2 separate regions of the Homo sapiens genome follow, and region 2 is linked to region 1. A link means that fine-mapping ties the variant in region 1 to the expression of a gene that starts in the linked region. Tissue or cell type: whole blood. Region 1 holds a variant in brackets; the other region holds the start of a gene. All regions are shown on one strand. Distances are from middle to middle.

Region 1 (6,597 bases):
GTAAAAAATTAAAAATTAGCCTGGTGTGGTGGCACTGGTGACCCCAACTACTCTGGAGTCTGAGGCTGCAGTGAGCTATGATTGCACTACTGCACTCCTGCTTGGTTGACAGAGCAAGACTTTGTCTCAAAAAAAAAAAATCCTTGCTGTTTGATTAAACCCAACTTAATCTCCTCATCTTAAGATCCTTAATGTAGTCACCTCTACCAAGTTCCTTTCACCTGTCAGGTAACATATTCACAGGTTCTGGGGATTAGGATGTGGAAATCTGTAGAGGGGCATTATTCTCTCTACAACAGTCCAGGAAGTTCAATATCCAAAATGAGGAATTCCAGGTCAAAAAAAAAAAAAGAGATAGAGAGAGAGAAAATAGAGGGGCAGAAGTTATCAAAGAAAAATAATACATGACAATTTCCCAAAACTTTAGGGCAAACATTTCCAGATTTAAAGAGCCTTCAGAGTGCCAGTGTAAAATCATGTCAAAAGCTTCCAAAGACAGAATGTCATACACAAAAGATCAAGGATCAGGCACTGGACTTTTTTTTTTTTTTTTTTGAGACGGAGTCTCGCTCTGTCGCCCAGGCTGGGGTACAGTGGTACAATCTCGGCTCACTGCAACCTCCGCCTCCCAAGTTCAAGCAATTCTCCTGTCTCAGCTTCCCAAGTAGCTAGGACTACAGGCATGCGCCACCGTGCCCGGCTAATTTTTATATTTTTAATAGAGACGGGGTTTTGCCTTGTTGGCCAGGCTGGTCTTGAACTCCTGACCTCAGGTGATCTGCCCACAGGCATTGGACTTTCTAACATCATCACTGGAAATTGGAAGAAGGCACAGGCCTTCATAATCTTGCGGAAAAATATTTCCAACCTAGAACTTATTGATAATCTTATTTTATTTTTAGAAAGAGGGCCTTGCTATGTTACCAAGGCTGGAATGCAGTGACTCTTCACAGGCACGACTGTAGTGCACTAGTCAGGCTTGAACTTCTGGCCTCAAGTTATCCTTCCACCATAGCCTCTCAAGTAGCTGGGACTAAAAGTATGCACCACCATGTCCAGCTGATAATTTTTTTTCTTTTAGAGATAGGGTCTCACTATGTTGCCCAGGCTGGTCTTGAACTCCTGGACTCAAGTTATCCTCCCACCTCAGCCTCTCAAAGTGCTGGGATTACAGGTGTGAGCCACTGCACTCAGCCTCCAGCTGATAATTTTATCAATCAAGTGTAAGTGTGGACTAAGTATGTTTCAGACATGCCTGGTCTCACTGAATTTTCCTTCCATGCATCTTTTCTCAAGAAGCTACTAGAGGACGTGCTCCATCAAAATGAGAGAGTAAACCAAGAAAGTGGAAAACAGAGAATCCAGGAAACAGGGGATGCAACAGAAGAGAGAGGTAAATGTTATTACAGAGGACCCAGACCACAGGTGTGCACAGGGCCCAGCACAGCAACCAGGCTGATTGCAGCCCAGGATAGAGGGCTTAAAGCAAGACACAGAACTAATAGGTTCTGAAGTTTTAATTATATTAACAAAAGCTTTAGAGTTGTGACAGAGATAAATTAGCAACTACATTGAAAATATAAAAACCCATCAAAATTACTAACTCTGAGAAAAATGAAATTGTACCAAAAAACGCAATCACAGTGCATTGGGTAGTCAGTGGCATATAATATTTTCCCAAGTCATAGGACAGTAAACACTGAATATTGGTTTAACTAGAACCTGTGATCTTGGGGTGGTGAGATAAGATAAACGTGTGTGTGCCTGTGCCTAAGAACTAAATCCTCATTTTCTATAGCAGGTAGTCGATTATATGATGCTTAAAGCTGAAACATCAAGATAAAGCTAAAAGAGTTGAAGGTGGCTGCCTCTGGGACAAGGGATCAGCACCAGTGAGTAGGGCTATTTTTAGAATAAACCTTATAGGGCTACTTGATTTTTTAAACTATGTACATGCATTTCTTTATATATCTATATATATATATATATATACATACACACACATATATATACACACATATACACACATATGTATATATATGTGTGTATATATAGTGTGTGTATATATAGTGTGTGTATATATATGTGTATATATATATGTATATATATATATTTTTTTTTTTTTTTTTTTTTTTTAAAGGGAGGAGAGAAGGGAAGAAAATCCTCTCTGAAAAAGGAGGCATTGGCGGGTTTTGGGAGGAGGCGGCCCCTCTGGCATCTTTGGGTTTTCTCTGACTTCAGCCTCATTAAATCACAGGAGGGAGATGACCTCAGCAAAGGACATCGAACCTGTGGGAGCACCTGTGAGGCAAGAAGTCCTCTGCCCTCTACCCTCACCCTCCCCAGCCATCACAGTGCGGTGGCAGACAGGCCCTGTGAGCGGCAGGCACCTGTCAGTGCCAGAGTCCTCCCAGCAGGCCTGGTGGCCCTGGTGAAGGGGTCAGCTTGGGAGAGACGAAGCTTCTTGGGATGGAGCTGGGTGGGAGAGGTGGAGAGGAGGACTTCATGGCTACATAGTACATTACAATCATGCCTGTGAATAGTCACTGCACTCCAGCCTTGAAGGGAGATGGGGCAGGGGGTGATGGAGAAACTTCCTTGCAACATGGACCTGAGTGGATCCCACCCTCCTGACACCCAATGGGAATGTTAATATGGCTCAGCTTGCTCCGGCAGCCAGAGACACCCTCTGTCCTCTGAGGTCCTCAACTCTCTGCTTCAGTCTCCAACTCAGAGAAAATCTCAAGAGAGGGGCATGGCTCCTGGCAGGGGGGTTGGGGAACAAAAGAAAATGTCGCCTCCCATCAACAATGGGTATGTGGCTCCTGAGAGGGCTGACTCCTGGCACACCCCACCCCAAGTCATGTAGGGTCACTTTGGGTGGGGCTTCTGGGTTCCTAGAGGTAGGAGGGATTTGAGCAAGACCCCAGGCAGAACTCAGGCTCTGCAGCTCTGACACCCTGGAGCTCAGTACAGTCACAAAGAAAAGTGGTGAAGAGTTCAAAGAACATGGGTCACTCCTAGCCTGAGAACAAGAGAATGGCAGGTGACCCTAGATGGCGTCCTCTATCCTCTTTTAAAATATGGCCGGGCGCAGTGGCTCACACCTGTAATCCCAGCACTTTGGGAGGCCGAGGTGGGAGGATCACCTGAGGTCAGGAGTTGAGGACCAGCCTGGCCAATATGGTGAAACCCCATCTCTACAAAAACACAAAAAC[G/A]AGCCAGGCGTGGTGGTGGGCGCCTGTAATCCCAGCTACTCAGGAGGCTGAGGCGGTAGAATCACTTGAACCCGGGAGGCGGAGGTTGCAGTGAGCTGAGATCGCACCATTGCACTTCAGCCTGGGCGACTGAGCGAGACTCCGTTTCAAAAAAAAAAAAAAAAAAAGGACGGTCACCATCAAATTGTACTGGGCTTTCAAGGGAAAAAAACATGTGAGATGTGCTATCAAAACACTGAAAGAGTAGACTTTAAGTGATGAACGTTCTCAAAGGGAGAAGGAAATTCAGTGTGGAGCTCCGTGAACAGCGGACGTCTCTAATTTGAACCCAAGAAGGAATAAGCTTATTCCCCAGATTCTCCACAGAATCAAAATCCACATCGTAGGGAACTAACTAGCATTGGTGGATGGTAACATGTTAAAGAGCAGGTGTGGGGACAGGGTGTGTCTGGGGTCAAATGTTTGGAAAATGCTGAATTAAACAAAGGAAATGGGCAAGAATGCTCAATAATGTTCATTGTAAACATCCCAAAGAAGTTTATATCTTTTGACAGTTGCACCTGTTTTTAAGAAGCAATGGATGGGATTATAGTTCCATGGAACACATTTTGGGAAACACTGGCCAAGTATCTCAAGCCCCTGAGGGCTTGGCCATCCCTAGCACCTGTGTGCAATATGCTTGGCAAGAACACACATCTGTGAGCTTCTTTGCTCCCCAAACCCCCACCTAGCTAGGAAGTTCTGAAATATTTGCAGGATGGACTCCATCTTTTTGTCATGCACAAGTCATATAGTTTATGGTTTTTGCAAAAAGGTGTGTCTTTCATTAATTTTCTTAGACATGGGGAAGAGCCTTGGAAAATAGGACCTTAGCTGACTCGATTCTTCTAGTTCTTACTTTTTTTTTTTTTTTTTTTTTTTGAGATGCAGTCTCATTCTGTCGCCCAGGCTTGAGAGTGCAGTGGTGCAATCTCGGCTCCCTACAACCTCCACCTCCCAGGTTCAAGCTATTCTCCAGCCTGAGCCTCCTGTGTAGCTGGGATTACAGGTGCCCACTACCACTCCTGGCTAATTTTTTTTTTTTTTTAGTTTTCACCATGTTGACCAGGGTGGTCTTGAACTCCCTTTCTCAGGTGAGCTGCCTGCCTCAGTTTCCCAAAGTGCTGGGGTTACAGGCATGAGCCACCAAGCCTGGCCTGGCTCTTTCTTTCTTGATTCCGTGGGTCTCTCTTCAACCCCACACATCACCCTGAGAATCACCTGTTTTCATGCCCTTGTTCCAAGAGCTGTTTGTCAAGCCTTAAATGACTTATGTATTTATTCAGGGTCCCTTTACCTTTTTAAAAGGTGGAATGCCACAGGCCCACTTGCAACAGGGGCTTCTCATGCGATATTGGTGCCCTTGAGGGTGTGGAAATGCGCAGGTGACAAAAATCCACTCTGTAGTCCATTCACCAAGTCTTAGTTGATTAACGCTACTATGATACCTGAGACTGGGTGTCTCATAAATAACAGAAATTCATTCTCTGGACGTTCTGGAGGCTGGGAGGTTCTAGGAGCCTGCAGGTTCCGTTGTCTGGTGAGGGCTGGTCTCTGTGTTTAAGATGGCACCTTATTGTTGCATCCTCCGGGCAGGGTGGGGGGCAACGCTGTGTCCTCACATGGCAAAGGCGGAAGAGCAAGGGAGCTGAAGGCTGTGTGAAGCCTCTTTAGTAAGAGCCTTAATCCCATTCACAAGGGAGGACCCCTCATGGCCTAATCACCTCTTAAAGGCCCCATCTCTCTTAATTCTATCACACTAGCAACACCTGAATTTTGGAGCGGACACATTCGAACCACAGCACCAATTCCAACAACATGGTTTGGGGCTGCATCTACCTGGTTGGGGGGCGGGGGGGCGAGGAGCACCTTTTGCTCACTGGCACAAAGGTGCTGCTGAGTGGGCCAGTGGCAGCTCTGACTTCCTGTAAGGTTATAGGGTTTACAGATTTCACCAGATTAGCATAACCTGGGAGTAGCCTCGTGTCAATGATTTCTGAGTTAATTAATGGTGTCTTTGAACTCCAGAATTGAGCTGAGCGGTTTTAGACCCACACGAAGCCAGCAGCTCTGCACTGGCACCTCTGAGAAGGGAAGGGAAAAAGGACGTTTGACCAATTATATTAAAATTGCGGGCTGGGCATGGTGGCTCATGCCTGTAATCCCAGCACTTTGGGAGGCTGAAGTGGGAGGATTGCTTGCATCCAGGAGCTCAAGACGAGCCTGGGCAACATAGTGAGACCCTGTCTGTAAAAAAAAATTAAAAATTAGCCAGGTGTGGTGGTGTGCACCTGTAGTCCTAGCTACTTGGGAGCCTGAAGTGGGAGGACCACTTGAGTCCAGGAGGTTGAGGCTGCAGTGAGCTGTGATCACACCATTGCACTCAGCTTGGGCAACAAAGTGAGACCTTGTCTCAGGAGAAAAATAAAAAAAGAACTGCTGCTACTTCCTTCCTAAAAACAGGCCCCCTCTTCCTTCCACTGTGGAACTGAGCATTCAGCCTCAGCCACCAATTTTGTAAATACAAATTTCCCCTTCCCCTCGCACACTGACCCTCAAATCTCTAAGCAGCCTGAATAGCACACGAGGGTACTATAGGGCACATCAGCATGCCCTGAAGGCAACCTGGACGTTTAATTTTTTAAATTTTTTAAATTTTGTTTTTTGAGACAGAGTTTCCGTCTTGTTGCCCAGGCTGGAGTGCAGCTGTGTGGTCTCAGCTCACTGCAACCTCTGCCTTCCGAGTTCAAGCGATTCTCCTACCTCAACCTCCTGAGCAGCTGGGATTACAGGTGTGCACCACCACGCCTGGCTAATTTTCGTATTTTTAGTAGAGACAGGGTTTCACCATGTTGGCCAGGCTGGTCTCGAACTCCTGACCTCAGGTGATCCGCCTGCCTCAGCCTCCCAAAGTGCTGGGATTACAGGCATGAGCCACCATGCCCAGCCCAACCCGGCCTTTTAAATTTTTACCACTTCAGTGTTTTCTCACTCTGGGTGGGAGGGAATCTTCTGTATTATAGCATTTCAGAAACACTCTTGAAGACAGGATGGAGACATGTAATGAATCTTTTTGATTTCCAAGGTATGTCCTGTGTTTGTGAGTGAGATTGTTTGGGGGTATGAGTTCCCTGGCTCAGTGCTTCTCAAATTTGAATGTGTAAATGAATCACCTCAATACTTATTAAACATGCAAATCATGATTCAGCAGGTGTCTTTCTAACAAGCGGCCAAGTAATGTTGATGTGGCCAGTCCACCGGAGGTGCAAAGCATGGCGATGGTGCTGCCCGTGCTTTGGGATCAGAGACCCCCGTGTTACAATCCTGCTTCTGTCTTTTA
Region 2 (5,760 bases), 57 kb after region 1:
GGCAGTGCTAGGGAGGAGGCACCCCTGGTTCCTCCACTGTGTTTAGATGAACTACAAGTAAGAAGCAGCTCCTCCATCTCTTTGGCCATTCCTGACAGCATCCAGTCCACAGTGATGATGGAGGAGCAGGGTGGTTCCCAGGGATTGATGACCATGCCCTGGGGTGACAGCAGGCTGAGGGCTGACCCTGGTCATCACTCACCCTGTGCAGGAGCCCCACACCCTGCCCTTCACTGCTGCCTGCAGGCTGAATGCTTAAAAATCAAACCACCAAGATCTGTTCTCTTCTCCCAAGGAGCTTCCTCCTGCATAGAACAGGTAACCAGGGGTGGGCCCATGTCTGCCTTCCTGGGCTGCTTGGTGAGATAGGCCCATCTCCAGTGGTAGGCATCTGAGAGCATGTGCAGGTAGAGGCACACAATGGCCCTGTTTTTTGACCCCTCTTTGAAAAAAGAAGGATTTACCGTTCATATCTCACATATGGGGAAACTGAGCCCCAAAGCAGTCTGGGCCGTGTTCCAAGTTCACCAGCCAGCCAGGCCAGTGAGAGAGCATCACCCAGAAACCCAAAAGCCCTGCCTCCCCGGCCACAATCCTTAGCTATGTGACCTTGGGCAAGTTACTTAACATCTCTAACTTGAGGCTTTGCTACTAGCAGTGAAGTCACAGGGCTTTGGCGAAGATTCAGTGAATAATGCACACAAACTGGTTTGCATGGAGTCTGGCATAAAACAGGTGTTCAATAAATATATTATTATTATTATTACAGCAGATGACAGTCTTTAATTCTGCATCCTCTTCCTGTTTTGTCACAAGATTCCAAATATTATTCAGCAGTATAACTCCGTCTCCAGTTTTCAGGGCAGCTGAGAACAGGGAAGGGTTAAGGTGGAGGTGAAGGGTGGCAGCAGGGCGGGGCACTGAGGTGCCATGTCTTGCTCCATTCCCAACACCCTCTGTGACCTTGGGCTGGTCTCTCTCTCTCTGCCTCTCTCTCTGTCTGTCCTCAGGCCCTTTGTTCTTGATGCATCCAAATGACAGTGCTGGCTGCTCAAGGCTGCAGTGAGCCCACCCCAGGAGGCCAGGAGTGTCCGAAAACCACATGTGCTTCTGGAAGATGTGGAAACTCTCCCAGAAGCCCTGGGAGGCAGGCTGGCAGGAAACCTCCTGGGGATCAGAGAGCCCAGGGCTGCCGGATATGATATTGTGAACTCGGTGGCCTCTGCCCGGGGCTGCTGCTACCGGAGCCCTCCCACACCTGCCTCCCATGCTTGCAGGGGAGGGAGACAGAGAACCCCTCAGCCAGGCCCCTCCTGCCCCACTACTCTGCACTCCCTGCAGAGCTGGCTTGGCTTCGTCAAAAGCAGGGCCCATCAGGGTGGAGGCGGCGATGTGTCAGCTGGTATTCAGGCTCTGGTTGTGCGCTCAGATCGCTCCCCCTCCCCATCTCCCCAAATCCACCCACCCACCCCGGTACCCACTGCTTGGGGCCTTCTGGGTGGCAGCACTTCACAGAGAGAGACCGAGGAGCAGCCCTGAGCCCTTGGCTGTGGGGGGTGGGGGAACTGACTCACTTGGCCCCCCTCCCTCGTGCCGATGGGGCAGCCCCCACACCCATGGGCGCTGGCACCCCGGCAGGCCCCCGGGTTTTGGAAGAGGAAGCTGCAGCCCGGCTGCGCCTGACCGGAGCCGGCTGAGGATGCGCTCTGGGCGCAGGGACCCGCTGGCCCCCGGGCCGGGAGGCGATGTTTAGGCAGCGACCCCCCAGAGGCTGCCGGGGCCACCCTGGCCACGGGCCCGCCGGGACGCCCCTGCTCGCCGCGCCCCTCCCCGGGCCGTGGCGCGTCCCCCGAGCCGCGCAATATTTCCTTCCTGCACCTTTAAGAAGACCGTTGCTCCGTGGTGGGATGGTGTGTTAAAGCCACACAGAGGAAGTTACGCAGCCCGGATCAGACCGAGAGATAAAAGCCCCGATGGTGATCGTGAGTGATGGCAAGAGGATTTAGCCTCGGCATTAACTTGGAGCGGAGTGCAGGGGGGCAGTGAAGCGCCCGCCATCTGGCCCGCGCCGCGCCGGGGGGATGCCCCGGCTCCCCGACGAGACGCCGCGAAGCCCACCCGGGCCGGGGGCTGCCCGGCGCCCGAGCGCGGGTCCTCCCCGGGCCGCCCAGGGGGGCCAAAAAGTTTGCACTTGTTAGCGGCGACCTCCCGCTCAGCCCGGGCGGGCGATGCGGGCGGCGCGGGCGGCCCCCTCCCCCGGCCCGCGTCTCCGGGACGGCTGCGGGCGGCCCCCCCGGCGGCCGGAGGGCTCCCTGGCCCCGATCTGACGGCGGCGGCGGCGGCGGCCACAGCGGCGGGAGCGGCGCGGGGAAGGAGCAGCGGCTCGCAGCCCTCGGCCCGCGCCCCCACCCAGCGCCAGCCCGAGGGGGGAGGCGCAGCGCCGGAGGGTGGCGGTCCTCGGCCCTCCCAGGTCTCCGCGCCGGGAAGCCGCTCCGAGCCGGGGTAAGGCGGGCGGGGAGAGCCCGGGAGGCGGGCGGGGGGAGAGGCTGCAGCTTGGCCAGGCCGGTTTCATTTTTAAAGGGCTTCGGTGACCATGCAGGCTTGCCCGGGCCCGGGAGCCACTTACAGCGGCCCGGCAAAGGCTCGGATGCAAAAGTTGTTTGGTGGCGGCTGCTACGAGCTGAGAACTGGAGTCGCCCCAGAGGGGTGTGTGAGGGTGCGTTCTTAGCAGCATCTTAAAGGGGTAGCTTGTCTTTCTGGCCAGCTTCCCCCGGGTCCTTTCCGTCGTGTGTGTGAGAGTGTGTGTGTGTGTGTGTGTGAGAGAGAGACAGAGTGTGTGTGTGTGTGTGTGTGTGTGTGTGTGTGTGTGTGTGTGTGTGTCGGGGAGGGATGTTGCAAGGATGCTCGGATGTGTCTCGGAAAAGGAAACTAACCCTGCTCCCGCGCCTCTCCCCCACCCCAATTCCACCGCCACCGCTTAGAGCCACCCCCATCCCGTGCCCTCCCATCTCTCTGCAAACTGGGAGCCTGTGAGTTGCACAGAGAAACTCCCGGCCAGTCCGGCTGGAAACTTCTCCCGGCGCCGGGAGGGGGTCGGGAGGTGAGGGGGCGCAGGCACTGGTTTGGGGCCGGCGTGGAGTCGAACCTGGAACTGAGCGGCGCGCAGGTGGGGGGAGCAGAGGCGGCGGGAAGGCGGGAAGAGAGGACCGCGGGCTCGCGGGGTCCGCCCGCTCCGGAGTAAGTTGGCCGTCTGGGCTGGGGGCGGCGGCGGCCGGGTCGCCACAGGCGGCAGCGCCGGGGCAAAGGATACAGCCAGTTCCTGGGCGCCCTGCTCTGTGTCTTTTAATTAAGAGAGGCAGTGCCGAAAAAGGGGGCGCCTCAGTCCCGGCCGGGCCTTTATTACGGGCTTAATTATTAATTGCTGCCGTGGCTTGCACGCAACTTTGGGAAGACGAAAAGCAGCTGCGGGGCTGCCGGGTCGTCGGTGTCCTAGGCACAGGGCTCGCAGCCGGCCCGAAGCACTGACTCGACCCTGGCCCCGGCCTCGACCCCGCCCGCGGCCCGCCGGGACCCACCCGGGAGCTGCTGCTCGCGCCCCGCCTCCCGCGCCCAACTTTCCAGGGCTCCCGCGGGCGGGGACCCAGGGGCCGGATAAAGGGCCCGCTCCGGAGCGGGGGGACACCCGGGCCGCCGGAATTAAGAGGCCCGCCGAGGCTACAGTGAGCGCGGGGCGCCCGCTGGACCCCGCCCGGGGCAGAGGACGGGAAGGTGACCCCGCCGGCCAAGCTCCCTTTCCCTCCCGGCAACCGCCACTCTCCCCTGAAAGCAGATTTCACCCCCCTCTGCCGCCCCTGCCGAGGAGGGAGAGGGAACCCCGGGGTGGGCTGAGTATCCCCCCTAGCCCCGGGAGCCCCCAGCGCCCTCCCTCCCGTGCCCCCAGGGGCCCCGCGCCCGCCGCGGCAAGTTTCCCACACGGCGAGGGCGCAGCAGGCAACTCCAAGAGGAACCTGCTGGCGAGCCCAGCCAGCTCGGGAGGCGCTAATTCAATAAGACAGAGAAATCTGAGTTCAGAAATCCTGATAAAATCTAATTTTCGAGTTTTAATACCCTGGCTATCAGCCCCCCTTGGTTCCTGAGGACTCTTAAAAGAAAATAAAGCACATTGATTCTATTTGTTTCTGGGAGCTGCAGTTTCTTAATAATATCAGGTGAAGATAAATTTTCCACGGAGAAAACGATCCTCCGGGATGCAGCTTCTTACTCTGAAAATTTCCCTGCCGACTCCTCACTCTCTGCGCTCCTCCTCGTTATCCGGGGACTCCTGCCTCTCTTCCCCCTTCTCTTTTTTCTTTTTGGCAGAACCCGCCTGCAATATTCGTGTGCTGAGCTCGTAATTCCCCCTGCGATGCCAGCAACGCCCAATTGATTGACTAGTTGTAAACACATTTTTCCCCTGGCAGATTTTGTTGTTGTTAGGGTTTTTTAAATTTATTTATTTTCCAGGGAATGCGTGGCATTTAAACCAACAGGACTGCAATTAATAGATTTGCGAGTTGCGCCGCGCGCGCCGCTCGCCCCAGCCTCCCGGCCTCCGGGCCTCGCTGCCTCCCCGCGCCCGGCGGCGTCCAGCGCCCTGCAAGCCCCGAGCAGCCGCGGGTCCTGCAGCTGAAGGAAGGTTGCAGCTGCGCCCTCCTTGCAAGCCGCAGCCCGGCGTCCTGGTTGTCCCAGCAGCCAGGAGATCCCTACCTGTTAGTGAACAGTTAGGAGTCGACTGCTGGAAGAATTAATTAGGAACGTGCTGTGCTCTGGGCAGCGCGAGCTCGGGTAGAGGCATCCAAACCTTTGCCGGCGGCGCTATTTTATTTTTACTACATTTTCTCAGGTTGCAAAAATAGACACCGGGCACGTTCTGTCTTAGAGTTTTCTAGCAAGGAGCGCCTTCAAGGCCAGGCAGGCTCTGTAACAGGTTCCCCTTTAAACAGCCAGAGGTGAGACGGGGAAAATGGTCCTGGCTGGGTTCTCGTTCATCTCCATCAGCAGTCCTTCACCCAGAGAGAGGGGCAGGGGTCGCCCTAACTCAGATGAATGAGTCCCATGCCTGGAGCCCTGGGGCCCTGGCTGGGGGCTGCTCCGAGCCTGAGGTGCTCAGGGCGCTCAGGGCAGCAAGTGTCCGCCACTTCGGTTTGTCATTTTTGGCAGGAGCGTTTTTCTGTCTGGGTGGAGAATGGAGTTTCACGGAAACACAGTTAACTCTTCAGGGGCCTTGCAAGTACAGGAGGTGAAGAGGATGTCAGGGGAGAGCCAGGTCCAGACTGGACATTTGGGGTGGTTTGGGAAATCAAATGCAATCATCGAAGACATATTAACCAGAATAATTAATCATGCAGGCACTTTTTTACTGCAGTAACCTTTGCCCTATTGGCCAATATTTTTGGCCAGAATCCCATGCTGGCTGGACTTGGATTCTCCGGGTGACGTATCCAGTGTCTGGAACACACCACAGTACTGCAGTCGTGTTATTTCCCAATGTAACATTCATGTAACTGGTATCTATTTTGATATAATATATTAATTATATCTATTTTGATTTTAAATAATTAACAGAAGCTTAAAATAGCACAGCAATAATCGTAATTGTAACCCATTTATAGACCTACCCTCTAAGAATGATTTGCAAAATGCTGGCCTTGATCAGAAAAATCTGAACTCACAAAGCATTGTTACCTCTTTGGCAGTCTTCAATATCCCTAGTTTCTTACA

What was found. PIP is the estimated chance that this variant, and not a neighbour inherited with it, causes the effect.
Region 2: NTNG2 starts here. The variant in region 1 is fine-mapped to the expression of NTNG2 in whole blood (INTERVAL, PIP 0.95).

Annotation. Positions count from the first base shown.
Region 1 is chr9:132,101,915-132,108,511 of GRCh38, forward strand. LOC105376302 (a long non-coding RNA gene) reads left to right here and starts at 1,306. Exons shown (of 3, transcript XR_930403.1): 1 at 1,306-1,393; 2 at 1,799-1,892; 3 at 2,258-2,668. The variant G/A (reference allele first, on the strand shown) is at 3,219.
Region 2 is chr9:132,159,738-132,165,497 of GRCh38, forward strand. It overlaps NTNG2 (netrin G2), which reads left to right and starts at 2,321. Exons shown (of 8, transcript NM_032536.4): 1 at 2,321-2,502. It overlaps LOC124902291 (a long non-coding RNA gene), which reads right to left and starts at 1,963. Exons shown (of 2, transcript XR_007061826.1): 1 at 1,879-1,963; 2 at 721-866.